Linked DNA regions of Homo sapiens: region 1 is linked to region 2. The links come from fine-mapping of genetic effects on gene expression. A gene starts in region 2. The other region holds a variant in brackets. All regions are shown on one strand. Distances are from middle to middle.

Region 1 (8,853 bases), 42 kb before region 2:
TGTGTGTCCTAAAAGATTTTCAATCTCCCTTGCTGTGTTGTTCCTGGATCTTGAAATCCTAACAGTAATTGAAACATAGAAAGAAAAAAACTTAGAATTGTCTAGTCCAGTGATTTTCAAACTGTATTTTAGCAGAGGAACCCTATTTTGCAAAAAGAAATTTTATATAGAGGCCCAATATTTCCATTCAAAAATGTATGTCTATGTAAATAGATACAGTTTGGAGGGAGGGAAGGAAGGGGGGAAAAAGGCAGGCAGGAAAAAAGAAAAGATATGCCCTTGTTGATGTGAGAAAGGGAACTGCAGAGCCCTCCCCTGCAGGCTTTGCCTCGACCTCTCTATTGGGCCATACTCCCCTCACTGCCCTCTCCACCTGCCCTGCCTGCCCTATAGTGCCCTGTAAGGCACCACTAAGACTAGTAGCCTACGAACAGGTTGAAAGCCACCAGTTTGAATGACTGTCTCCTTTTAACAAAAGGAAACTAAGACTTGATGACTGAATCATATTCTTCTTTAGTATTCCAAATCCTTCCTTCAAAAAGTAAATTGCCTTCTTTTTGTTTCTTTTTAGATTATTCTGTACAGCCTTCCCCGAAGTAATTGCATACAAATCAGATTATCAGTGTTCAGTATACTCTTCTTATAATTAAACCACCATCATTTAACTTTACTCATAAAATTTTATTTGAACAAAACAATTTTTGAAAATATAAAAATTTCATAAGAACTGCTTTCCTGTTAGATACAAAATTTATTTTAAAAATAAATAATTATATTGACCTTTACCATCACTTGTCTAAATTTTACTCATGTTTATTGTGAAGACACAGAGGTGAATTAGAAGAGTATATCATTATACATTGTCAAATAAAGCGAAGGTTTCCTTATCCAAATAGAGAGAATATATATGTGATTACTTAATATAAAGCAAAAGCTATTTCTACCAAAGAACAGACATGCAGTTATTGATCTGGAATTGGCATGATTACAAACTACTCTGCAATTCTTCCTCTCCCCAATTAAGGTGTCTCTCTTGAACTGATTGAAAGCTGTTTGATAAGTATACTTTTTTCAAGATGGTGTGCTCAGTTGGGGGTCTTTTTATTAAACTGAAATTCTGTCATTAGCTCTGACTAGCACCAGCTGCTGTATAAATTCTGTGTTGACGTAGACCTCCATTGGTGTTCCAAATATTGCAGATGAATCTCTCTCTGCCTCCAAAATCCTCAGTCATGCAGTATGAATAATTAACATCTGAAAATGCAGAACAAAAATGGCTTTTATTAGAAGACATGGTACTGGGATCACAATTCCACCTTAACTCCTCAGAACAATGAACCAAATAGGACTTTAGCAATTAAACAAAAGTATTTCTAAATCTCTCTATATTATGTTTTTCCCTGTACTTGATCAGAAATGTTAACATTAAGACACAAATTAAATGTTTTAGTCGTACAGCAAAGTTAAAGACAGAATCCAAGCGGCAGCACATTTTAACTAATGTTTTTCTGAATGTTCTAATTCCAGATAAATTCAAAGCATTTAGGACTCATGTCTGCCATGATTATTCTTTCTTCTAAATAGTTCATAATCCATCACTTTTTTTTTTTTTTTTTTTTTTTTAGAACAGATTCTCTCTCCTCTGTCATCCAGGCTGGAGTACAGCAGTGGCACCATCTTGGCTCACTGCAACCTCTGACTGCCAGGTTCAAGCGATTCTCCTGCCTCAGCCTCCTGAATAGCTGGGATTACAGGTCTGCACCACCATGTCCAGCTAATTTTTTGTATTTTTAGTAGAGACAGGGTTCCACCATGTTGGTCAGGCTAGTCTCGAACTCCTGACTTCGTGATCTGGCCCCCTTGGCCTCGCATAGTGCTGGGATTACAGGCGTGAGCCACCACGCCCAGCCAGTCCATCACTTTTAAGAAAAACCTTTCCTATTCATTAATCTAATATTATTTCTACAAGATGTATGGTATAAGTACAGCATAAAACAGTTTCATGAAATGTCTTTATGGAGTTGAACTTATAAAACATCTACCTGGTGTGGGAGATGTGCCAAGTGGGACTTTTCCTTAATGTATTGGATAGATTTTAGCAGACAGATTTTTAAACTTGTCAAAGGACATTGATAAACTTGAATCCATGAAATGATGCAATACATAAAGATAAAATATGCCATAATAGTACAGTGGCTAAGAGCAAAGCATTCTGGACATCAATTTCTGGGCCTCAGTTTCTCCATCTGTAAATGAAGATAATATTAGTATCGGGCTTATGACGTTACTTGAAGCACTAAGAGATCATGCATGTGATCATTAGCACAGCACCGTGTATTTGTTTTCTATTTCTGCGTAACAAATTACTGCATACTTTGTGGCTCTAAACAACAACTACTTATTATCTTACAGTTTCTAGGTAAGGGCATGGCTTAGATGGGCCCTCTGCTTAGAGTCTCACAACACTGTAATCAAGGTGACACCTGGACAGTGTTCTCATCTGGAGATTTGACTGAGGAAGAAACCCCTTTTAAGCTCACTCAGGTTATTGGCAGAATTCATTTCCATGCTGCTCTAAAACCAAGTATCCAGGCTTCTTTCTGACTGCTGGCTAGAGTTTGCCCAAGGTTCCTCACCATGAGAGCTTCCTCAACATGACTGCTTACTTCATCAAGCCAACAAGGAGAGTGTCTGGAGTGAGTCTACTAGCAAGACAGCGTCTTATATTATGTAACACAATAACAGGAAGAACATCCCACCACTTTTGCCGTATTCTGTTGGTTAGAAGCAAGTCCCAGGTCCTGCCTACACACAAGTGAACACACCAGGAAGCAAGGATCCCTGGTGGTCACCCTAGAGTTTGTGTGCCAAATATAGTAAATGAATGAATAAATGAAAGTGTGAGTGAGTGAATAAGTAAATGAGTAAGTGAATGAGTGAAGTTGGGTTTGAATGTTGTAAGCCCCTTGGACAACAGAAAACATGGGAAATAGTTGTAAATACAGGATAAATAGGTAGGTAGTAGACTCTAAGGTAACTGCTCAATTGAAGTCATAATGCAAGCATCTAACCTTTGTGAAAATAATGTGTTGAATAATTATAGGGCCTGGGCTGTAAGGCCCAGAGAATGTCAGAGTAAAATCTCAGGGATGGTGGGAAATAGAGACCTAAAAGAATATATAGGGCTTTTAGTCTCACTTTAAAGTGATAATTTTCTTACAATTGGAGCAAATGGAGAAATTAGAAATGAAATAAAATGGTCAAATATAATTACATAAATTTTTAACTTGTAAGTAATAGAAATAACTAGCAATAAAAACCAAAAAAATCAACACACATGAAAAATAGAATTATCAGCACCAAGTATATGAAAATTTATTCAAACATGCATGTGAACACTAATAATATTCCCAATGGATAAATGGGCAAAGGACATGATTATATGATTCATGCACAGGAAATATGAATAGTAAAATAAATTTGAAAAACAGTTTAAATTTAATATGAATAAGGGAAAAGCCTCGCAAAGAAAAAAAATTTAAGTACCAATTTAATCCATCTTTTTTTTTTTTTTTTTTTTTTTTTTTTTTTTTATTGAGACAGAGTCTTGGTCTGTTACCCAGGCTAGAGTGCAGTGACGCGATCTCGACTCATTGCAAGCTCCACCTCCCGGGTTCATGCCATTCTCCTGCCTCAGCTTCCTGAGTAGCTGGGACTACAGGCACCCGCCACCATGCCTGGCTAATTTTTTTTTTTTTTTTTTTTTTTTTTGGATTTTTAGTAGAGACAGGGTTTCACTGTGTTAGCCAGGATGGTCTCGATCTCCTGATATCGTGATCCGCCCACCTCAGCCTCCCAAAGTGCTGGGATTACAGGCGTGAGCCACCGCACCTGGCCAACCCAATCAATCTTATTTTACCAGCTGATTACTTTAAGATGAGAGAGTAAACAGTAAATTAATTGCATTAGTATTATTAACCAAAACACCTGGTATAACTTATAACTCACCCTGGGTGGGTGGATATTCGATAATAATTAACTGTCAGTAGTGAGTGGTAGGAGAGCTAGTATGGGTAACTGCAGTCGCCAAATCATCAAAACACTTATTTGCAGACCGTAAGACCACATTAACGTGAGGCAGCTAACGTGGGGGGAAAAGGTATTTAGAATTCTTTCAATTTTACTTATACCACTTTGGTAACTGGACTGCAGTAAAACAGATAGAGATCAGACCCCAGAAGAACAGGAAAACTAGGCAAACAGGCTGGATACTCCACAGGAAGAGAATCTGCCCAAGAACAAAGTCAGCGTCCCTACTTTAACGAATATTCTCATGACAACACCTTGGCCTCGGATGAACTCCTGCTTTGTGACAGCGTCGTGGGATGCAGCAGGGCTGTATGGACTGTTCCTGGACTTGGCACGCAAACAGCGACACAGGTGGGTATC[C/T]GCTTTTCCCTCTCCCTCAGGCCTGTTCTGGGTAGACAGGGAAAATCAGTTTTGATGCCATTGATGATATGCCCAATATGTTTGTGCACGTGTGTCCTCAGGTCTCTTTAGGAGTAAGCTATGGCATGTCTCTCATCATGGCCAGGGATGGAAGGGCCAACAATTAAATGAATAATAGTAAGCACTCACTAAGTATTTGTTGTGGTTATTAATGTTGCTTTTACCTTCAGTGGGAAGAAGGCAAATAAAGATGAGTTTTTTCCTGGAATCTAGATGGGCTCTCTTGTGGTGTCAGAGAGGGCGGGCGCCCATGGGACAGCTGCAGCAGAGGGCGGGCAGACGAGGCCCACAGGGGAGCCCAGCACCTGAAGATGATGATAGGCAGCAGCAGGTGGTGTCTGGGAGGTCTGACAGCCACAGTCAGGGCCTGTGGTTTTCAAACACAACTCCAGGCTGACTCACTGAGGGAGATCCAGTAAGCTCTTCAAACCAGTGCCACCTACCACCCCCACAGATTAAGGGCAGGATTCGTCGGGGACCTGAGGCAAGGCTAGGGGACAGAAGGTGTTATGGCAAACAGGAGTCAAGAGGGAAATGGGGGAGGAAGTTGGAGAGCCAAGCAAGTGGTGGTCACAGTACCTTTCTGAGAGCAGTCATTGGTTATTATGCTCTGGAGGAGAGGAGGAAATACGTAACAGAGACCTTCAGAGGGAACGAGCAGATCGCACATTTGTTCTTTCCATATGTCCAGGTGAAGACTGGATGTCAAGCTGGTCCCCACTCGTCTCCTCCCCTCCTCCATCTATAAAATAAATGTACTTTGGTCCTAATATTTTAAGCGCAATTACCCTAAACTCATTTGGAGGTCCATCCATGGGGTACTTTTAATAGTTCTTGTCTGCATTTGGTGAGTCTTCACATCAGTATATCTTCCTTGGAATGTAAATTTTTGGAAGGAAGGAATCAGAGCTATGTGGTTCTTTGAACAGTGTGTAACACTGTAAACAATTAGATGACTTATATTTTTAAGATGAAGATGATGCTACTTATAAAATGAATGAGATTTGTGAAGCCATTCTTTTTTGTCGTAATATGAATGGGACTTGAAAAGTTAGTATTCTGCTGGTGAGAAAACAGCAGTGTCACTTCTAGTTCTTAATGTGAAACTAGCTTTTGTATTCCTCTTAAAATGCTTACCATTGTAATCCCACTTCTAGAAACCTTAGGTAGGGAAATAATAAACAATGTGAACAAAGATATATGTGTAAACACATGAGCACCTAGATGCTTAATTATAGGAAAATGGCCAGATGAAGCTTAGTACAGCTGTAAGATAAAATATCTAGCAGTTATCAAAATTATAGTTAATAATTTTAACAGGAAAATAATTATGTTAAAATAGCAAGTGAAAAAAAAACATGCAGTATTTTTTTCAATTATATTTTTCCAAAGTATAGAAATAATTGGAAAGAAACGTATCGAAATGCTAAAAAAAAAAAAGAGGGCATGAGGAGGAGGGCCTGTATGGCAGAAAAATGGCTAAGAGGTGAGCAATGAGGAAATGAAATGTGTCAAGCAGAACTAAGGAAAGGAAAATTCAGTTTTTTGAATACTCTGTGCAAGCAATGAAATAAGCATTTAATAATTCTTGTTAATAATTAAAGATAAACATTGGAGTAAGGCTACAAGGAGAAAAGAGCCTCTTTCCACAATGAACAGAAACCTCCCATCTTGGCTTAGTTGAAAGAATGGAAAGCTAAGATACTTTGAAGTCTGAATGAGTACATGAGATGACTCAGGTGTGGTTAGGAGCCCATCACCTCTGCTGAGCAGCTAAACATGACAGTGAAACTGTGAGTACACATTTGAGAAATGGGATTTGCTGAGGCCATATATGGGAAGAGGGGATAGGCAAGCCATTAAACCAGTCTGCTAGTTTCTAAACCTAGATGCCCATCCAGAATTACATGAGTAACTATCTAAAACCACAGGTATGCAGCCAAAAAGGCACAGGCCAAAGTAATTATATCAGGGCACAGATGAAACAAAATACGGGATGGGCAGTGCATAGAGAATGAAAGGAACTAACAATGGCACAGTCACCACTCACTGCAGCCTCAACCTCCTGGGCTCAAGTGATTCCCATGTCTCAGCCTTCCAAGTAGCTGTGACTACAGGCGTGAACCACCGTGCCAGCTAATTTTAGTATTTTTTGCAGAGACAGGGTTTTGCCATGTTGCCCAGGCTGGTCTTGAACTCCTGAGCACAAGCAATCCTCCCACCTCGGCCTCCCAAAGTGTTGGGATTACAGACGTGGGCCACCGTGCCTGGCAGAGCATAATGCTTTACATGGGCTTACTCACTTATCCCCTCACAACAGCGTTCTATACTAAGTGTGGGTTTCTGCATTTAACCCCCTCATTATTTCCTCCCTTACATTTGCAGTCTTTACCTTTCTACTGACTCATCTTAGTAATGCTTAAATATGTTCTTCATCCCCTACTTCTCTTTCAGCTACTCTGGAAATTACCCTACTCTGTCCTCCCCTTCAAAGCCCAAATTCTCTAAATGATTAAGTACCCATGGTCATTTCCTCATGCCCACAGGCTCCTCAACCCATTACCATTGGGCTCATGTGCCTACCTGCTTTCTAAAGCTGCCTTCACCAATGTTACCAGGAGCCTCCTCATTGATAAAACTCATTGGATACTTTCCATTCCTTACATTATATGACTTTTTGGCCACTTTAACCTCTGAGATCCAGTTTTAGAGTTACATGTCTAGCTACTTAATGGACATCCCACAGCTTCATTAGACCTCAAATTCAATATATTCTAAGTTTACCTCATCTTCTTTCCAAAGCTACTCTTGTTCCATGTTCTCTATTTCAGCAAATGACACCATCACCAAAGCTGGTCTTCCTTCTTTCCTTCACCCCCAAATACACTTGGCCACTAAACCCCTGTACAGTCTACCCCCTACCTGCCTCTCAGAGCTGAGGTGTACTCTTCTCCATCCCTATAGTACTAGGCTCATATCACCACTCCCTTGGTAGCCCCATCACTGGACTTCCTACCCTTCACCCCTCCACTGACCTACCACCATCTCTATTCTGGTCCCTGGAATGCAGTCCAGGGGATCTTTCTAAAACACAAGTCTGATTATGTCAGTCCTCTACTTAAAAATTTTCCGTGGCTTTCCACTGTCCCTAAAATAAAGTCTAAACTTCTTAACATGGTTAACATGATTCTCTCCAAGTTTCATCTTCAACACATCCCCTTCTGCACGCCACACTCCAGCAATACTTCTTGCTGTTCCTCCAATGTAGGTGCTGTCTTCTCTCTCTGGTTGTTTCCAGTGCTTGAAACAGATCTTCTGACTTTTCTTCTGGCTAAGTCCTTCCACATCTTTAGATCTCAACTTATGTCACCTCCCCTGGAAAGACATTCCTCAACCCCCAGTCCGGGTTAAGTATCCTTCTTCTGGGCATCCACTGTATTACAAATGCTCTTAAAGTGGCCTCTATTTAACCAGCTTACTTGATACACATAATTTCCTTTGTAAAGCACACTGACTACAGCCCTGCCCTCCCCAATGCTCAAAGCTGATAAGCTGCTGTCTATACACTCATCTTACTACTGCTCTCACCAGTTGAATTGCATTGTATGCCTACCAAGTGTCAGATGTGTTTGGTCTAAGTTCTTTTATAACAATTTTACTTATTGTTATAGCTATGTTATTTGAGGAAATCTTATGTAAATTAATAAAATATAAGTACAGAAAGTTGTTTTTATAATGTACAAAGACATAAATGTAAGCTTCTAAAAGTTGCTTTAATGGATATAAAGTTGTAAATGGAAAGAAATCATTAAAAATCTAAACAGATTCTACTCTGACATAGATTTGTCAGTATCTAAGTTCTTGCTCCAATTTAAAGAAATTAAAATAGAAGTAAAACATGTGTATGTATTATGGATGTGGTTTAAATCAGAAAGATGACCTGGGACTTCAATTATTGGACATATATTTAAGGAAAAGTCCTTAGCCTTGCATCAAAAAACTGGCAAAATAATATACATTTATATTTTTATTGAAGTGAAATTCATATAACATACAATTAACCATTTGAAAGTATACAAGTCAATGGCATTTAGTGCATTCATGATGCTGTGCCACTATCAACTCTGTCTAGTTTCAAAACTTGTTCATCACCCCAGAAAAACGCCCTGTACTCTTAAGTAACCACTCCTCATTCCGCTGCTCCCCTGTCTCCTGACAACCTCTAATCTGCTTTAAATTGAAATAGAACATTTAAGGCACGTAGATAACATTTTTAATGACTCTCCACTTTACTGACTTTTTGGATGAGTCTATTAACTATTGGTCCAACCCAAGTTGGATGAG
Region 2 (8,853 bases):
AGCGCGCACCTATTTCCCTAATGAAACGCTTCAGATTGCGTTCTAGGTCTCTTCCCGCAGCTGCGACAATTCCCCCAGCCGGGAGCGGGAGCGGATGGAGCCAGCGTAATTGATGGCAAGAAAGAGGCTGAGGTCCTGTTTGTCTCGGTCCGCAAACCCGATTGAGTTCACCTTTCCCCGGGACAAGTAAACAGACTTCAAACTATGCCGACTGTAGACGGCGAGGAGAAGAATGTATTTGATGGAAACTCCATCCAATGCAAAGATGATAAGGCCGAGGGTGCCACAGCCTACTAAAATTGTGACTCCCAAAGGCTTCCTCCCAGCTAGAATGGGGTGCGGGGCAGCCGCCAGAACCACAGCCGGGCACCGCCAGCCAGGTCCCCGCCCGGGCTTGGGCTAGGCTGGGGCAGGTTAAGCGAAGCTCCAATTCCGTGGGATCCGGACCTAGAGCCAAACAGCAGCTGCAGTATCCATGTCCCCTGCCCGGCCGGCCTGAGCTGGGTGCCTTAGCCACCTACACTCCCGGTCCCGGAACCACAGCTGACCATTCCAACGCAAGTGGTCAAATTTGTTTGTTTTCCAAAACGTGAGACCTGTTAAAATCTCCCTTCCCCGCCTTCCAACAAGCACTCTCACTAGACCCAACCATCCTCTTGGGAATCTTCGAGTCCCTCTGGCTGTTGGAAACTGTGTCTCAGCAGTGAGGCCCAGGTTTCTGAGGGAGAAAGCCCGGCCTAGCCCACAGTCTTAAGGCACCACGCCAGAGGAGGCTCCAGGAAGTTAACAAAGAGGACTGCTGGGCCCGGAGCGAGGACTCCGGCCAGTCTGCTTTCCTCACAAGCTCTTGGTGGGGGAGCGGGAGAGAGGGATTGGGAAGAGATGCAGACGAATAACGAAATGAGAGAGGGGAAGAGAGGAAGAAAAAGAAAGTTGAAAACCTGGGCGAGAAGTGAGTACATGCCAAATAAGAATCAATTGCCCATAATCCAATACTTCCAGGCCTAGAGGAAAGTGCTGGGAGGGGCGTCTGCCCGCAGCTGGCTCAGCTGCCTTTCGACCGGAGATTTGGCAAGGGTGACCCGGAAGGGCTACAGCCCATCCAGGGGACTACAATTTTTCTGTGTTCAAAACCATTCCTTCTCCCCTCTCTCTCATCCCTAATGGGTCTCCCAACACAAACACTGAGCGCTGAGGAAACCAGGAAATTAGAGGTTGGAAGAAAGGAATCAAAAATGATTTATTATTTATTTATTTTTTTTGCTTGGCGTGGGAGGTAGTGGCTGGGAGGTGAAGAACTGTAAACAGGAGAAAGATTCATTACTACAAAAATTTAGGATCCCAGAGATAAAACCCAGTACAACAAAGAGTGAAATCTCAGCTCCCAAAGTCCTTCCTGGGATGTCCTCAGGCCTGTCACCCAGTGTTACCCCGTTGGAGGCCAAAGGAGCCAAAAGCAGCAGGGGCTGAAGGCGTCTGCTGCTGGTCCCCTAGAGGGGTCCCTGTTTTAGGACAGAAACAAAACCCCTGAATGACTTCCTTACTTTCGAAAACAGCCTCCCATCGAATTCTGTGAAGGAGCTCAGCCACTGATTAGAAATAAAGGTTTGATGTTCAAATCTACAGAGGTGATCCATTCACTGAAAACCATAACTCACTCAGACTGATTTAAAATGGGTGTCCTCTCTCACTGTTTTAAAACTTTGGCTCAGCTTTGTGAGACCACAGTAGACAGTTCTGAGACTCCTATCAACAGAAGTCTGACTCAGAAAATGAATTATTTGGTCTCTTTCTCTTCCTCTCTCCCTCTCCCTCTTGGTGGAAGTAGTTTGGTATTTCGGTCCTCCACTGCAGTCTCAGGACTGCTCAAGATTTGTTTCCACACAATTTCTGAGGCAGAACAAAACTCCCTCTTCCTGTGGGGCAAGGACTCTGGGCCTGGCCTCCTTACCTCCTTAACCGGTTCAGAATCCTTTGAGCTCAAACCCAAACAATTTGAATCTCATCAGACCAAAGACAAGATCCTCCCAAGCCCCCGCCCCTCAAAGCCATTTAAAGCCAAATCAAAACAAAACAAAAAGGAGGGTTTTAATCAGAAAAAGAATCTTTTTAATTTGTATAATTTATTAGAAGCTTCTTAGGAACTATATTTAAGCCAAATATCTACATAAGTTACAACAGAAAAAGACTGACGCCGCAAATACCAAACTGCCAAATAATATACACAGATTTGTCAATGCCCATAAAAAATGTGAAGGGCTGGGGACTGGGAGTGGTTTTTCTTTTTACAACAAAATGTACAGATTACTAAAAACTAGGCATTTAGTCCAACTTTTGACAGCGTTTTACAGCTACAAGTTCACATTAAACAAACTATTTTCGCGGAGGGCGGTCGCCGCTGAGCCTAGGCGGCCAGAGGGTGCCGGGGAGGGGGCACTTCCTTTGTGTCAGTGACAAGTGGGTTATGTTGAAGACTCTTTCCTCTCCCCAGCTCCCGTCCTCCCTTCAAAAAAAAAAAAAAATCCTGGTATTTACAAGCGAGTCCTCTTTGCTGGCAGAGTGTGCCCAGAGTGAAGTTTGGTCTTTAGAGTCCAGAGCCATGTCAGCACAGAGCCCTCTCCAATCTGTGCCCCGCCCTAGCGTGGAAAACCCATTTGAATCACCAAAAAAAGACACCCCAAAGCTGTTTTATGCCCTTCTCTGCTTAAAGATTCCTTGAGATTGGATGCGCTTGGTTGTTTTTCATTTTCTTTTTTTAAAAAAAAAAACCCACAAATTTTAGGGGGGGAAAAAAAGAAAGACGTCCAGCAGTTTGGCCTTTGTGGTTTTTTTGTTCCTTGGTCTAAACGCGGCCAGGTTGTTAAGAAAAGTCGAAGCGCGTGGAGCAGCGGTGGATGGTGGTCTGTGTGGCGGGCAGGAGGGAAGCGGTGAGGCAGAGCGCTGGGCTAGGGCCGGCCCGGCGTCCTCTCACCAGGTCCGACCGTATAGCAAGGTGGAGCAGGACATGGTGCCGTAGTCCGAGCCCGAGGAGTTCAGGTGGGACAGGCTGGATACCTGGCCCTGCAGCGCCGCGGGGCTGGCGGCGTGGTGCGCCAGGTCCGGAGACTGGCCTGCGCTGCCTGGCTGGTGGCCCGGGTGTGCGCCAAGGCCGGCGCCACCGCTGCCCACGGAGATGGCCGCTGCCGCCGCCTGCGCGGCCTGCGCCTGGTGCTGCGCCTGCTGCTGCGCGTGGCCTTGTAGGCTGGCGGCGCCCGGCGCGGGGGCACCCGCCTGGCACGGTTTGCCGTCTTTCACCAGGACCGGCACCGCCACGCGTCGCGGCGACTGCTGCTGAGCCTGTTGCTGCTGCGGGCACCCGGTGCCCCCGCCGCCCCCGCCGCCGCCGCTGTCCTGCTGCAGTTGCTGCTGCGCCGCCTTGTCCTTGGCCTGGCGCTTCATTTTGTAGCGGTGGTTCTGGAACCAGATCTTGACCTGCGTGGGCGTCAGGTGGATCATGCTGGCCAGGTGCTCGCGCTCCGGCGCCGACAGGTACTTCTGTTGCTTGAAGCGTCGCTCCAGCTCGTACACCTGCGCCTGCGAGAAGAGCACCCGGCGCTTCCTGCGCGGCGCGCTTGGCAGCGGGGCCATGTTCTTGCTCACGTCCCCCAGCGAGCCCAGGCCGCCCATGCCGCTCATGTTCATGCCGCTCGCCGGGCCCATGAAGCGGGAGACTGTAAGCGACAAACGCACAGCGTCGGCCGGGGCCAGGCCGAGCCAGGCCACCCCTGTTTTCCGCGCCATTGGCCCGCCCGGCCCGCCCCAACCGACGGCGCCCTCCTGACCCAGGCAGCCTAGCGCTGGGGCCCAAGAGGCCCATCCGCGGGGAACTGCCAGCGCCTGCCCCAGGCCGTACCGTCGAGGGGGCTGTACTGGAGCGCTCACAGCCCCAACCCTGGCTGCCCTCCCTCAGTCTCAGTTCCCTCTTTCGAACCAAAAGACGCAGTGGGGGAAAGGCCGCTTCTGCTCCTTTCGTGCCCAGCCCGGGTCAGAGCATTAGGATTAGCTGGCCACAGGCGGCGAACTGGGCTCAGGCCGGGAGCTGGGGTCCTACGGTAGACCCCAGTTTGGAGAGGTTAGGAGAGGGGGTGTTGACTTCCAAAAGCTGGAGCCCCCAGACGCTTTGCCTCTTGGCTTCTCTCCTGTCAGGCCCCAGTGAGGGCACCTGCTCGGACCCTTAGAGTCCCCTCTGGAACTGCGAGTCCTCCCACCTGCCCAGACTCCGCTGGAGAGAGGGCCGGGCCGGGCGCTCGAGTGCCTCCCAACAGGGCAGCCTCCCTCCTGGCCCGGTCTAGCCTCTCCGCGCTCTGCTCGCCCCTGCTCCTTGAGCTCGGGGTCGCTTCCCTTGGCTCCCCGAGGTCTTCTGCGCCGAGCAGAGCTGCCAGTCCACCGCGCCTAGGAGACGCCGAGTACCCGCATCTGACCGCAGGACCCCAGCGCTACCAAGTGCCTGTTCTTGGACCCCCAGCCGAGCAGGGGGAAGCATCCCCAGCTCCCGCACCCAAGTCCCTGGCGCCGCTGCCGGGCCGCCCTCCCTGATGCCCAGCGCGCAGCCTGCCGGCGCCGCGCCTTCTGGACGGCTCTCGCCGCACCTCCTGAGCTCAGCCCGCGGCCCCGCAGTGGGGCGGCCTCACTTACTGGCGGGGAAGCGCGGGTCTGGGTTGGCGCCGTACCATCCGGGGCCAGAGGCGCTGTTCCTCATGGTGTCCTGGTACGGCGGCAGCTCGCTCATGTTGCCCAGGTTGCCGTTGCAGTAGCCCCCCACGGCGGAGTGCGAGAGCTGGGGCACCCCCGCCGCCGTCATGTGGTAGGCGGCGGTGACGGCGCCGTGGTGCCCCACGGCGTGCTGCTGCATGGCCGCTGTTGGCGGTGCCGCCTGGCCCTGCCTGTACGCCGCCAGCGGAGCCCCGAGGCCGCCGCCCTCCATGCCCACTTTCTTGTAGCTTTCCTCCAGGGGACTCAAGATGTCAGACACTGAGAACGGAGTCGTGTGCTTTGGACTCATCGACATGATTCGGCGGCGGCTGGAGGAGGAAGGAAGAGGAGGAAAAAAAAGGGAGAGGGGGAAGGCGAAGCCTCGCTGCTTTTTTTTTCTCCCTTTGCCAAATATTCTGGTGTTACCTTAACGCCGATCTTGTTGGATGTACACGTAACGGAGTGGACCGAGTCCTCCTTAATTGGCTTGAGTGGAGGCTCGGGGGCTGCCTCGCGTTTGTTTTAGCCCGGCGCCAGGTTTTAGGCAGCCACCAGAGGCGGGGCGTAAGCGCTAAAGCAACAAGACAATAGAAGCCTACATCTTGCCCGAGATAATTAGCTTACATGCTGATGACAAGGTAAACACCTTTAAGTTTCACTTGTCAGGATTTTTAGGTCTCAAAGAGAGAGAGAGAGAGGCAGAGACGAGACCCAAAGCATTTCCCCCCTCCCTTGGACACCCCCACCCCCATTTTTTGTGGGGTACCAGCGGAGCGCGGGGAGGAGGTGGAGGGGAGGGGAAGGAGGAGGGAACCGAGAGCGGGGAGGGCAGGAGGTGGGGTGGGGGAGTAACAGAGGAGGAGAGATGGTTGAGAGGAAGGAAGGTGAATGCTGCTTTGCAACCAACTTGCGGAGTTACAAAGTGGAACCACTTTCCAATTCGGTCGGGGTTCCCCGGGCACGGACAGGTCTTTAGGAGGAGGGGGCTGAGGGACAGGGTGGGGGTTTCACCTGAGCCTGCCGGGGCTGCTCCTCCCTCCCGCCGCGGCCTCCCAGCCCCGCGCCTTCCCACTGCCTCCGGACCACATCGGGCTTCGCTGCGCTGAGCCCCAGTCGCCAACAAATGAGCGAGCGAGTCTGGGGACGAACCCTGGGGCCGCACTGTTGGTCTACGTGTCTGTCAGTCTGTCTGCCTCTCTTCTGCCGCCGTCAGAGGGACACCTCTGCTCCCCGCCCCCTTTCCCCCTACCGGAGAGAATCCGAGCGGGCGGAGGGGGCGCTGAGTAGGGGATCGACTGCCTCCCGGAGGCTGTCCCGGATCCCCGAGCCACAACCCGCCCCCGCAGCTCAGGGGTTTTTCAGTGGGCCACCCCCGCTAACACGCCTCCCCCAAGGTCTTCCCCCCCCCCCCCCACCCCCGGCCGAGCAAACACAGCACTGGCCCCCAGAGCTGGGAGGATGGGAAGGGGTCTCACGGGAGGGTCCGTCACTGAAGTTGCCCCACCTCGAACAAACCTGGTGTCCCTGACCCTCGCCCATCTCCCAGACACGCGGGGATCTGGGGCTGGAGCTGACTTTCCGAGGACATCACAGCCCCAGCACCCGAGCCCAGAGCCACGCTGTTTTCCCCTCTGATGCTTCAGGGAGCGCGCGAGCAGGGAGCGGCGTGAGTGCCCGTCTGTCTGTTGCCGGGCGGAACTGAGCCTGAACCCCGGCGGCTGGAGCGCTGGCCAGGAGGGGGCGAATGCCGAGGTGCGGGCAGCTCAGCGGGCGGGAGGCTGGGCCGAGGCTCGCCTCCGCCCGCAGCTCAGCCATGCAAAAGTGCTCTTGCTTCCCGGGAATAACCAAATATCTTTGTTTAAAGTGGTGGCGTAAATGGCCAGTCGCTTTGTGGCCACGCTGGATATTAGTAGATGAGGATCATTCTGCTTCAATTGGGCGCCTCTCATCCGACGAGCAAGAAACTGCTTAGGAGGAAGAGGGTTTCCTGTCTGCGCGTTCCCAGGCTTCAAGTGTGGGCCCCGCGCCTTGAGGGTCCTTGGGCGCCTGGCGAGGGGGAGCTGTGGGCTGCGCTCCCCAGCGGAATCGGGGGTGTCCCCCGCGTTGCTCCGGCCAGGCCGGGGCCTGCAGCCGAGTCGACTACCGAGTGGAGCACTGAACGGCGCGGATTTTGAGACCGACTCCGGTTTTTGTCCTTGGATTTTAAACGTTTTTATCATTGTTTTTGTTTTGCTTTCTCCTTAGCTGTTTTAGTCTCCTCTGCGCGCCAGGGGCTGGGAGGGCGGAGCGCTCCCCGGCCGGCCCCGGCAGGTGCCTCCAAGACACCCGCGCTGGTCAAGGAGCTTCTTGAATTTAGTTTTTGTTTTCACATTTTCTTTCCCCTCCTTGTAGAGAAGGAGCTCCTGATCATGACGAACAGGCAGTTTTGAGCTACTTAATTCATCCGGGCTCCCTTTTTTTATTAATAGCAATTACAGTAGAGAAAGTTTTATTTATTTTTAAAGATTTCAGCCCTCTCCTTGAAGAGAGCTCTTACTCCCTCAATACAAAGCCAACTTCTATAATAACATTCGCTTTTCTCACCGCCTACCTTCTTTACCAGGGTAAAGAAAGCTCAGGACACCCTCCGCCCTCCCACCTGCGCCCGCGTTTTTGTGCGGTCCCCACGGCAGAGCTGGGGAGGCCACCCTACGTTTGCGCAGGGAGACGCGCTCGCCGCTGGTGTTGCGAAAGACCAGAGCGAAGCCCGGCTCCTTGCCCTTCCTTCCCAGGGGCTTCTCTGGGGGGCGCTCTCAGGCCCCGACGAACTGAGCATTGATCACTGTGGTGGCTAAGCAAGGAGGGGAGGCGACGCCGGGCTTAAGCGAACCACAGAGGAGAACTGGCAACGCTGAATACAGACCTTGTCTGCAGGCGCGACCTGGCCGGGCCTGAGTCCCGAATGGGGTCTAATTGCGAAGGCGGGGTGGGTTTCCCAGTCACCCAGCTTCTTTCTCTCACTCGCCATTATTTCATAGTTGTTTGTAAGTTTAAGGAACACCAAGTGTAGAATGTTGTACATCTCTTCCAGTCTCAACGCCATTTAGAAATGGAGATCAATCTTCACAAGGTTTTTGTGAGATTCAAGTAAGATGAAGCACATCAAAATGCTTTGAAAGCTTTGAATGTTTTTCAGCTCAGTGCCAGCACTGGAGATTGCGGTAGTTATTATCATGACTATCCCCACCCCCTCTTAGGTCCCAAGACCTGAGTAAAAGGAAGAGTTGGGTGAATCTTCCACAGCCCCTAGGTCCTGTCTTCTCGGCCTTCGTCCCTTGGCAGCTTTTCAACCTCTCAGCAGGCCACAGGCGCACGTGGCTGGCAGCTCCCCGGCCTCCGGCTCTGACAGTCCGGGGGCAACCAGGCCTGCAGTTCTCGAGGAAACCCCCAGCCCCCCACGTCTCGTTCTGGACCAGGAACCCCCTCCCCAACAACCGCGCAGCAAGTGGCGACTCTGGGAGCTGAACTGGAGTGGAGCTCGAAGTGGCTGGGGCGGGCAAAGACTCCCGCTTCACTCTGGGACACAACTGGGACGGCGCTTCAACCTCTGCCTGCAGGCGTGCTTCTCGCGCGCACCAGCAAGCTCTCTATCCACCTCGCCTGGGCCTTTGCAGCGCCCTGCCGCCCAGGCTCCAGCGCCTCTACTACCCTAGCCCCTTCTCAACACGCGGCTCTGCCTTCTTCCCCAGTACCACTGCACTGCCGAAAATAAGCCCGGAGACTAACGCACCTTGTAGGGAAGAGAAGGACATCTGTATCTCCAAGCTTATCCAAGCAAAGGCCTCCAGAGTCCCTCCCATGGCCCGAAACACCTCCCTCTGACCGAAGAGCGTCCTTTCTTTCCGCCGCCTCCTGGACTCATCCTAAATAGGGCAGACCCGGGCTAAACCAGTGATTTTTTTTTCCATGAATACGAAGAACCCCGATTGCACTTTGCGAAGTCTGCGCGTATTCCTTTATCCCGCAACTAGCTTGCTCCCGGGTGGAGTGGGCACAGTGGGGAGCGGTCAGGGCAGGGCAGGGCCCAACGCTGGCCCCTCGCGGAGCTTTCCCTGGCGCGACCTCACACGGTCGCTGCCTCTA

The links.
Region 1: its variant is fine-mapped to the expression of SFTA3 in thyroid (GTEx, PIP above 0.99).

Annotation. Positions count from the first base shown.
Region 1 is chr14:36,472,628-36,481,480 of GRCh38, forward strand. SFTA3 (surfactant associated 3) reads right to left here. Exons shown (of 5, transcript NR_161365.1): 3 at 5,089-5,251; 4 at 4,344-4,476; 5 at 661-1,254. Among named protein-coding and RNA genes, the nearest start is that of NKX2-1-AS1, 42 kb to the right of the region's middle. The variant C/T (reference allele first, on the strand shown) is at 4,450.
Region 2 is chr14:36,514,311-36,523,163 of GRCh38, forward strand. SFTA3 (surfactant associated 3) reads right to left here and starts at 5,246. Exons shown (of 5, transcript NR_161365.1): 1 at 5,158-5,246. It overlaps NKX2-1 (NK2 homeobox 1), which reads right to left and starts at 5,922. Exons shown (of 3, transcript NM_001079668.3): 1 at 5,743-5,922; 2 at 4,675-5,060; 3 at 2,087-3,710. The coding sequence starts at 5,819. The coding sequence ends at 2,968. NKX2-1-AS1 (NKX2-1 antisense RNA 1) reads left to right here and starts at 4,968. Exons shown (of 2, transcript NR_103710.1): 1 at 4,968-5,369; 2 at 7,334-8,706. RefSeq lists enhancers at 331-958, 3,181-4,179, 5,338-6,337, 6,338-7,337, 7,338-8,337.